2 linked regions of the Homo sapiens genome follow. The protein of the gene in region 1 purifies or fractionates together with the protein of each later gene. This does not show direct contact. Each region holds a gene or a part of one and is shown on either strand. Other genes may lie near its edges.

Evidence for each region.
Region 2: the proteins of WIPF2 (region 1) and ZFAND5 fractionate together in Homo sapiens (co-fractionation; one large-scale study listed by BioGRID). This does not show direct contact.

What each region holds. Positions count from the first base shown.
Region 1 is NC_000017.11:40,222,022-40,225,838, forward strand, and holds part of WIPF2 (WAS/WASL-interacting protein family member 2), read left to right. Parts: intron 1-3,817. UniProt on the Homo sapiens protein: Plays an active role in the formation of cell surface protrusions downstream of activated PDGFB receptors. Plays an important role in actin-microspike formation through cooperation with WASL.
Region 2 is NC_000009.12:72,355,129-72,358,945, reverse strand, and holds part of ZFAND5 (AN1-type zinc finger protein 5), read left to right. Parts: intron 1-1,889; coding exon 1,890-2,015; intron 2,016-2,844; coding exon 2,845-2,993; 3' UTR 2,994-3,817. UniProt on the Homo sapiens protein: Involved in protein degradation via the ubiquitin-proteasome system. May act by anchoring ubiquitinated proteins to the proteasome. Plays a role in ubiquitin-mediated protein degradation during muscle atrophy.

The sequences.
Region 1 (3,817 bases):
GACTAGTAGAATGTAGTGTTGGTTTTTTTATTTGTTTATTTATTTATTTTGAGACAGAGTCTTGCTGTATTGCCCAGGCTGGAGTGCAATGGCACAATCTTGGCTCACTGCAACCTCTGTCTCCTGGGTTCAAGCAATTCTCCTGGCTCAGCCTCCCAAGTAGCTGGGATTACAGGCGCGTGCTGCCACGCCCAGCTAATTTTTGTATTTTTAGTAGAGACAGGGTTTCACCGTATTGGCCAGGCTGGTCTCGAACTCCTGACCTCGTGATCTGCCCACCTTGGCCTCCCAAAGTGCTGGGATTACAGGTGTGAGCCACCGCGCCTGGCCGACCTGTCTCTTAAAGGAAAACAAGGCTGGGCGCGCTGGCTCATGCCTATAATCCCAACGCTTTGGGAGGCCAAGGTGGTGGATCACCTGAGATTGCAGTGAGCTGAGATCGCGCCATTGCACTCCAGCCTGGGCAACAAGAGCGAAACTCCACCTCAACAACAACAACAACAACAACAAAAGGAAACATGTTTTTCTGTTTCTTCCTCTTAGCCTTGCTCATGTGTGTGTGTGTTTGTGTGTGTGTGTGTGTGTCTGCGTGCCAGCCAGGGAAGAACTGGTTTTGATTTGATGCATATTCAGTTTTTTTTTTTTTTTTTTTTTTTTTTTTTTTTTGAGACAGAGTTTCGCTCCTGCTGCCCAGGCTGGAGTGGAATGGCGCAGTCTTGGCTCACTGCAACCTCCGCCTGCCGGATTCAAGCGCTTCTCCTGCCTCAGTCCCCCAAGTAACTGGTACTATAGGCATGCACCACCACGCCCAGCTAATTTTTTGTATTTTAGTAGAGATGGGGTTTCACCATGTTGGTCAGGCTGGTCTCGAACTCCTGACTTCAGGTGATCCACCCACCTCGGCCTCCCAAAGTGTTGAGATTACAGGCATGAGCTACCACACCTGGCCGCATGTTTAGTTTTTTAACTCTTATTAATGTCAACTTTTAAAAGTAAAAATTTCATATTGTGTTACATTGGTTGCCATCAAGATGAAGATAGGGAAGTTAAGAGTTGGGGAAGGTGGAGATGAATGAAGTCAATTGATGAAGACTAGTAGAATGTAGTGTTTGTTTTTTTATTTGTTTATTTATTTATTTTGAGACAGAGTCTTGCTGTATTGCCCAGGCTGGAGTGCAATGGCACAATCTTGGCTCACTGCAACCTCTGTCTCCTGGGTTCAAGCAATTCTCCTGGCTCAGCCTCCCAAGTAGCTGGGATTACAGGCATGTGCCACCTGGCTAATTTTTGTATTTTTAGTAGAGACAGGGTTTTGCCATGTTGGCCAGGCTGGTCATTTACTAATTCCACCTCACACTTGATACTAGAGTAGTGTTTACCCTAGCTGGTACTGATAAGTTATGTGATAGCACCAAGGTGAAATGCAGGAGAGGTGTGAACATTGGAGTTTTCAGGTTTTACTGATGGCTTTTACGAAGGGAAGAGATTCTAGACTCACTAGGTGTTTTTAGGAAAAAAAAAAGGCAAGAGGCAAGAGACAGAAGTCTTGTTCTGTTGAAGAGAAAATTTTTTTTTGGGTTTTTTTTTTTTTTTTTTGAGACGGAGTCTCGCTCAGTTGCCCAGGCTGGAGTGCAATGGCATGATCTCTGCTCACTGCAACCTCCACCTCCCAGGTTCAAGCGATTCTCCTGCCTCAGCCTCCTGAGTAGCTGGGTGCCATCACGCCTGGCTAATTTTTGTATTTTTGTAGAGACGAGGTTTCACTGTGTTGGTCAGGCTGGTCTCGAACTTCTGACCTTGTGATCTGCCAGTCTCGGCCTCCCAAAGTGCTGGGATTACAGGCGTGAGCCACCGCGCCCGGCCCGAGAAAATTATTAAATGTTCTTTCTTTACTTGTGTTCTCTGATTGGGAGAGTAACCTGGTATATGTTAGTCTGTTTTCCTGCTCTGAAATAACTGTGAAATTCATGGGCTCTTGGTTCAGGCAGCTTCAGCAAACATAGTCTTCTTACAACCCCAGGAAGAGTTGCAGGCTACAAAATATATGTACTTATTTGGGAGTAAAAACCTGCTTAATATTATGCTATTGCAACCTACAGTGTACCTTTTTGGTTTGTTTTTTAAGGGGATTTTGAGATAACATATGGAGGCTCGGTGCTCCTGGGCGGACTTTTGGTACAGCCTGCTTATTTTTTTTTTCTTTTCTTTTCTTTTTTTTTTTTTTTTTTGAGACGGAGTCTCACTTTGTCCCCCAGGCTGGAGTGCAGTGGCGCAATCTCGGCTCACTGCAAGCTCCGCCTCCCAGGTTCACGCCATTCTCCTGCCTCAGCCTCCTGAGGAGCTGGACTACAGGCGCCTGCCACCACGCCCGGCTGATTTTTTGTATTTTTTTTTTTTTTTTTTTTGTAGTAGAGACGGGGTTTCAACTTGTTAGCGAGGATGTCTTGATCTCCTGACCTTGTGATCCACCCGCCTCGGCCTCCCAAAGTGCTGAAATTACGGGCGTGAGCCACCGCGCCCGGCCCAGCCTGCTTCTTTAACATAATGATTTTCCATTTTTCCTATCCTGTCACAGTTTTCCGTTGCTCTGCTTGAGCCAGTCCTATGTAGAAAGTGGCAAATTACACATTTTTTCTCCCCTTTTAGTCTCTGGTGGACATCTTGTCTGTGTCACAGTTTGATACTACCAAATTGAAAGGATTCTTCACTGCTTCAGATGGGGAGGGTGACAGAAGCTGAGCTGTTTCCTGGGTCAGATAATGGCCTCTGTCAAAGCAAAGAATAGTTGTAGAGACACAAACTGGGCCCTTGAAGCTGTGACTAACATTTTGGCAACATGCATCCCTTTGCCAAATAACTTCTTTTCTTCTTGAGTGTGATTGTTGATCTCCTTCTCAAAGTAGGCTCTTGTTGCTACTATTCTTCACACAACTCCCAAGCAAAAGTTGGCAGAGTTCCGGTTGACTGACTGTGTCTTGAGGGATATGCCCCGGATTAGAGTGGATGGGGCGTTCCATGTCAAAATGAGGTTCATTGGCAGATCCTGAGAGCTGCTTTGCAAAGAAATAGAGGCAGTACTCTTTACTGAATGTTCTTGCGGTCCTTTATCTTTCTTCTAAATTCAAGTCTGTTTCTTATTCATCTAGTGATTAAATGCAGAATCATTGCCTTTGCCTAGCTTCGTGGGCATTGTGGAAGAGAAGACAGTATTTCCAACTTTTTTTTTTTTTTTCTTTTCTCACAAGCCATTGAGCCTGAGGAACTACAGGCTAAATTTATGAGCATTTCTTGATATCTACAGAGGGCTACTAAAAAAAAAATGCTGAATAGACCTTTATGGGGAACAACAATGTTAATAGGAAAAAAAGGTGATATGTTTGCTAATGTCTATGTCAGTCTTAACTCTCTTTAAGATTTTGGCTCATTTTGGCTTAAGAGCCTGCAGAAGTATGTAAGTTATCAAATAGGGGAGCCAGGAATTGGTTTCTTCCTTGCCATTTAAGCTTGGCAAAGTTAGAGCAATTTGGAATGGCTATCCAACAATGTGTTCTACTTAGTAAATACTCTCTTGTTTTTCAGGGGATAGTTAGCTAAAGGTAGGGTTATCTCCAATATGTTTTGGGATGGATCGTGAAGATCATTCCCTTTTTATTTTGAGACAGGATCTCTCTCTCTTGCCCAGGCTGGAGTGTGGCGGCGTGATCTGTAGCCTCGACCTCCCCAGGCTCAGGCTCAGGTGTTCTTCCCACTTCAGCCTCCTGTGTAGCTGGGACTACAGGCGCACGCCACTATGCCTCACTAATTTTTATTTTTTGTA
Region 2 (3,817 bases), on another chromosome or scaffold:
GTTTTCATGAGATATGGTGACTTTGGAAACTTTGCTTATATAGCACAACCAGAAGTGCCCTGATGGTGGAAGAAGACTGACTTGAATTACCTGTACTAGGCCCTAGAACAAAAAGATTTCTGTGCTTTATATAGTGCACGTAGCTTATTTTATCAATTTGTTCTTTTTTGGCAGAGTGCTGATTAAATGCAATATAAAACTTCTGTTGTGAAAAAATACTGTCAGTGGTTATACAGTCTGCTTTGGAGGCTGGCTTTTGCTAACAGCAGTCAAGTTTGTTTATTGTATTAATCTTACAAAGTTAAGGCCAAATTCTCAAGTTTGGCAGGTGAATCTATATTTGGCATTTTGAAATGAGCTCCATCCTTAAACTGACCACATTAGTTTGCCCGTGATGCCTTTGTTTGGGTTTTTGTTTTTGGTTTTGGTTTTTAAATACAAAATTACTCTGACCTTGGAAGAATAGTCTTGGGTTAGAGCTAGTCTGCATTTATTATTACTTAGTAGGCATTCTGTGATTCACTGCTATTTGCCTTTTCTGTGTCATTTTCTTATTCCCCCTTCTTCCCTTGTCTCAGGAGCCGTAGTTCATTTTTCAGATGTGGCCAAAGAAATGGCTGACACCCTCCCTCTACCCCATACAACTATTCCCCTAGATTATTCTTTATCCTCATGACATCAGGATAAACATTAATGTTGTCACAGTAGCAGTAGGTAGAATATTGTTCGTTTAGTCTAATATTAGGCTATTTCTCCCAGTAGATTCATTGCTAATGCAATTGAATTATAAATTTGGGCAGAGTTTTAGAGAAAATTGCCATTAAATCAATCAGCTTGTTGTAGGAGCTTGTCTATATGCTAATAGCATTGGTGCTGGCATATTTGGGCAGTAATTTCAGCATTGCATACATAAATTTGCTATTGTTACATTTGGATTAATATTAAAACCTGAGTTTATAGTGTTTCAGGTGTAGTTGAATTATATGTAAGTAGATATAAATTTTGTTATTTTTGTGTTAAAGAACTAGTGGCAGTGTGGGCTTTAGTACAGTAATGTATTTTTTGTTCATTGTGAGAAATTTTATTGATGCCATGTGTACACTGAAACTTAAAGCCTTTTTAGGTGGAGAAACGGTGGGACTGTTTGTAGATGCTATCTCTGTCGATAGTGGATGCCCATTTTAGATAAGATTCTTGTTCTGCCTGTGGAATCCTTAATAGTTTAAAATCAATACTTCTCGAGTAGTTTCTAAAGACTGTTTGCCGATCTGTTTTTAAAACCAAGGTTTAAAAAAATCTTTCAAGTCTTCCTATGATGTTTAGTGCACCTGTGAAAATGGTAAAATGATTGTTTTGGAATTTTTGGATCTGACGTTGATTTAGGGATGAATGGTTTGAGTTTTATTTGTCAAAATTTGCTGTTTTTATATCTACAGGATTTTTTTTCCTATAAGCATAAAATCAAAGTTGGCTACTGTTATTTACTGTGATGTAATGAATTTGAACTGCCCTGATTGAAAAGTTTGCATTTAGGAAATTATAACGTGGAAAAACTGAGCATATGATTAACATCTCCCAGCTCTTTAAAACAGAATTAGGATTTTGTTTTTAGTACTGGCTGTTACCAGTGTTTTAAAGGAATTTCTTGAGTGAAGCGATCATTTTACAAAATTAGAGAAGCAAGTAGTATGGTGATTGGCAGGAATTTCTCAGATTTGAATCAAGTTCTGATGTTAAAATGGAAGATTCTGTTTAAAGCTTGTATTTTCAAGGAATACTTATAAACATTTTTATCAGGCATCTTCCTGTTTCTCTTAAATACTTCCTTTTTTGACTTAAAAATGTTAGCCAGTGAATGCTTGACAAATTTGTGTTTTTGTCCTTTTCAGTTGTCACTCAGCCCAGTCCATCAGTTTCTCAGCCCAGTACTTCTCAGAGTGAAGAAAAAGCTCCTGAATTGCCCAAACCAAAGAAAAACAGATGTTTCATGTGCAGAAAGAAAGTTGGTCTTACAGGTATTACAAAACACAAGACAATGTATGTTTTACTTCTGCAGTTAACAAGGAGCTTTTGGTCACTCCCTAAGAGACTAGTTGGTCTTACACATAAAAAAAAAAAAAAAGCCTGACTAGCTGTAGTCTAGGAAAGGTGGAGGAGGTGGTATTGGGGTGGAAAGAAGTTGGGTTTTACTTCCATTTGTCTCCTAATCATATAAAACTATTAACTCAGGCCCTCTTATTTTATTAGATTGATAAAAAGTTTTTGTATACCTAGGGAAAATGTTACTGAACTAACAGTAAGCGCCACCTACTTTGAGCTATGCAGGGAATGTTCTTGGTGCTTTTTTTCTTGTCTCCTTCAAATCTCAGACCTTGATGGTTGTTTTCACTTGAGGAAGCATTACTTAAGATATGGTAGGACTGTGTTTTGAATCCAGCTTAGCCTAACTCCAGAGCCTGTGTAAATTTTATCCTGCGTTGCATCTACAGGAGTCGATAGAGGGAGAGCATCTGGGAGAAATTAGCTGGCAGATAGCCCATTTTGTTTTCTCCACGTGGTTTGGCTTACCAAACACTTCGCTATTGCCCTTGCAAGGAAAGACTGAACATAGTTATTTGAATTTCTCACCATGTCAAAGGAAGTTAAAAGTTCCTTTTCCAGGTTAACGTGATAGACTCTGTAAGAGTTGACTGTGTCTTATCACCAGGAAGTGGAAGAAAAGAGTTCACTGTCTTTTATGTTACAAAGCAATGAAAATCTGGTTCCTTTTCTATAGTGACTAAGGCTTTTTTTTCTTTTAATTGCCTCAAGTTCTCAAATGACTCTACTTCTTCGTTTGTACAGGGTTTGACTGCCGATGTGGAAATTTGTTTTGTGGACTTCACCGTTACTCTGACAAGCACAACTGTCCGTATGATTACAAAGCAGAAGCTGCAGCAAAAATCAGAAAAGAGAATCCAGTTGTTGTGGCTGAAAAAATTCAGAGAATATAAATTACTTCTTGTGAAGAGACTGAAACTTTGTTTTTATTTTAATATATCGTAGGAAAACATTAAAGAGCAGATGCATGGCCATTTTTCTTTGATGTTCTCCAGAGTTTTACATTACACTTGTCTGTCTTATAATTGATATTTTAGGATGTTTGGGTGTTTGTTACAGGCAGAATTGGATAGATACAGCCCTACAAATGTATATGCCCTCCCCTGAAAAAAATTGGATGAAAATCTGCACAGCAAAGTGAAACACACAGATAATAGGAACAAAATGTAGTTCCCATGTGCCAAACAAAATAAATGAAATCTCTGCATGTTTGCAGCATATCTGCCTTTTGGGAATGTAATCAAGGTATAATCTTTGGCTAGTGTTATGTGCCTGTATTTTTTTAAAATGGTACACCAGAAAAGGACTGGCAGTCTACTTCTACCATAGTTAAACTTCACCCTCTTTAATTTCACAACATATTCTTTGGAAGCAGGAAGAAATGCTCATAAAGAGGATCAGACCTTCTTTCCCGTGAAACCAGTATTTGGCGCCATATATAAGCCTGGTTAAATTGGTCATCTAAAGCTGTCAAATAAGACATTCTGTGAAAGGTAAACATCGAAACTGGTTATAAGTAAAACCATCAAGCCAACAACAGGGTCTTGAGATAACCTTTGAAGCTTATTGTACTGGCCTGCACCAGAAGATGTCTGCATTACTCATTGCTAAAAATGTGTAGCACAGAACTGCACTAGGATTAATTTGTTTACAAGAAGAAATTTAAACTCTACGTTTGGTTTTCACATACAGCAGCTCTATTGAATAACATGCATCT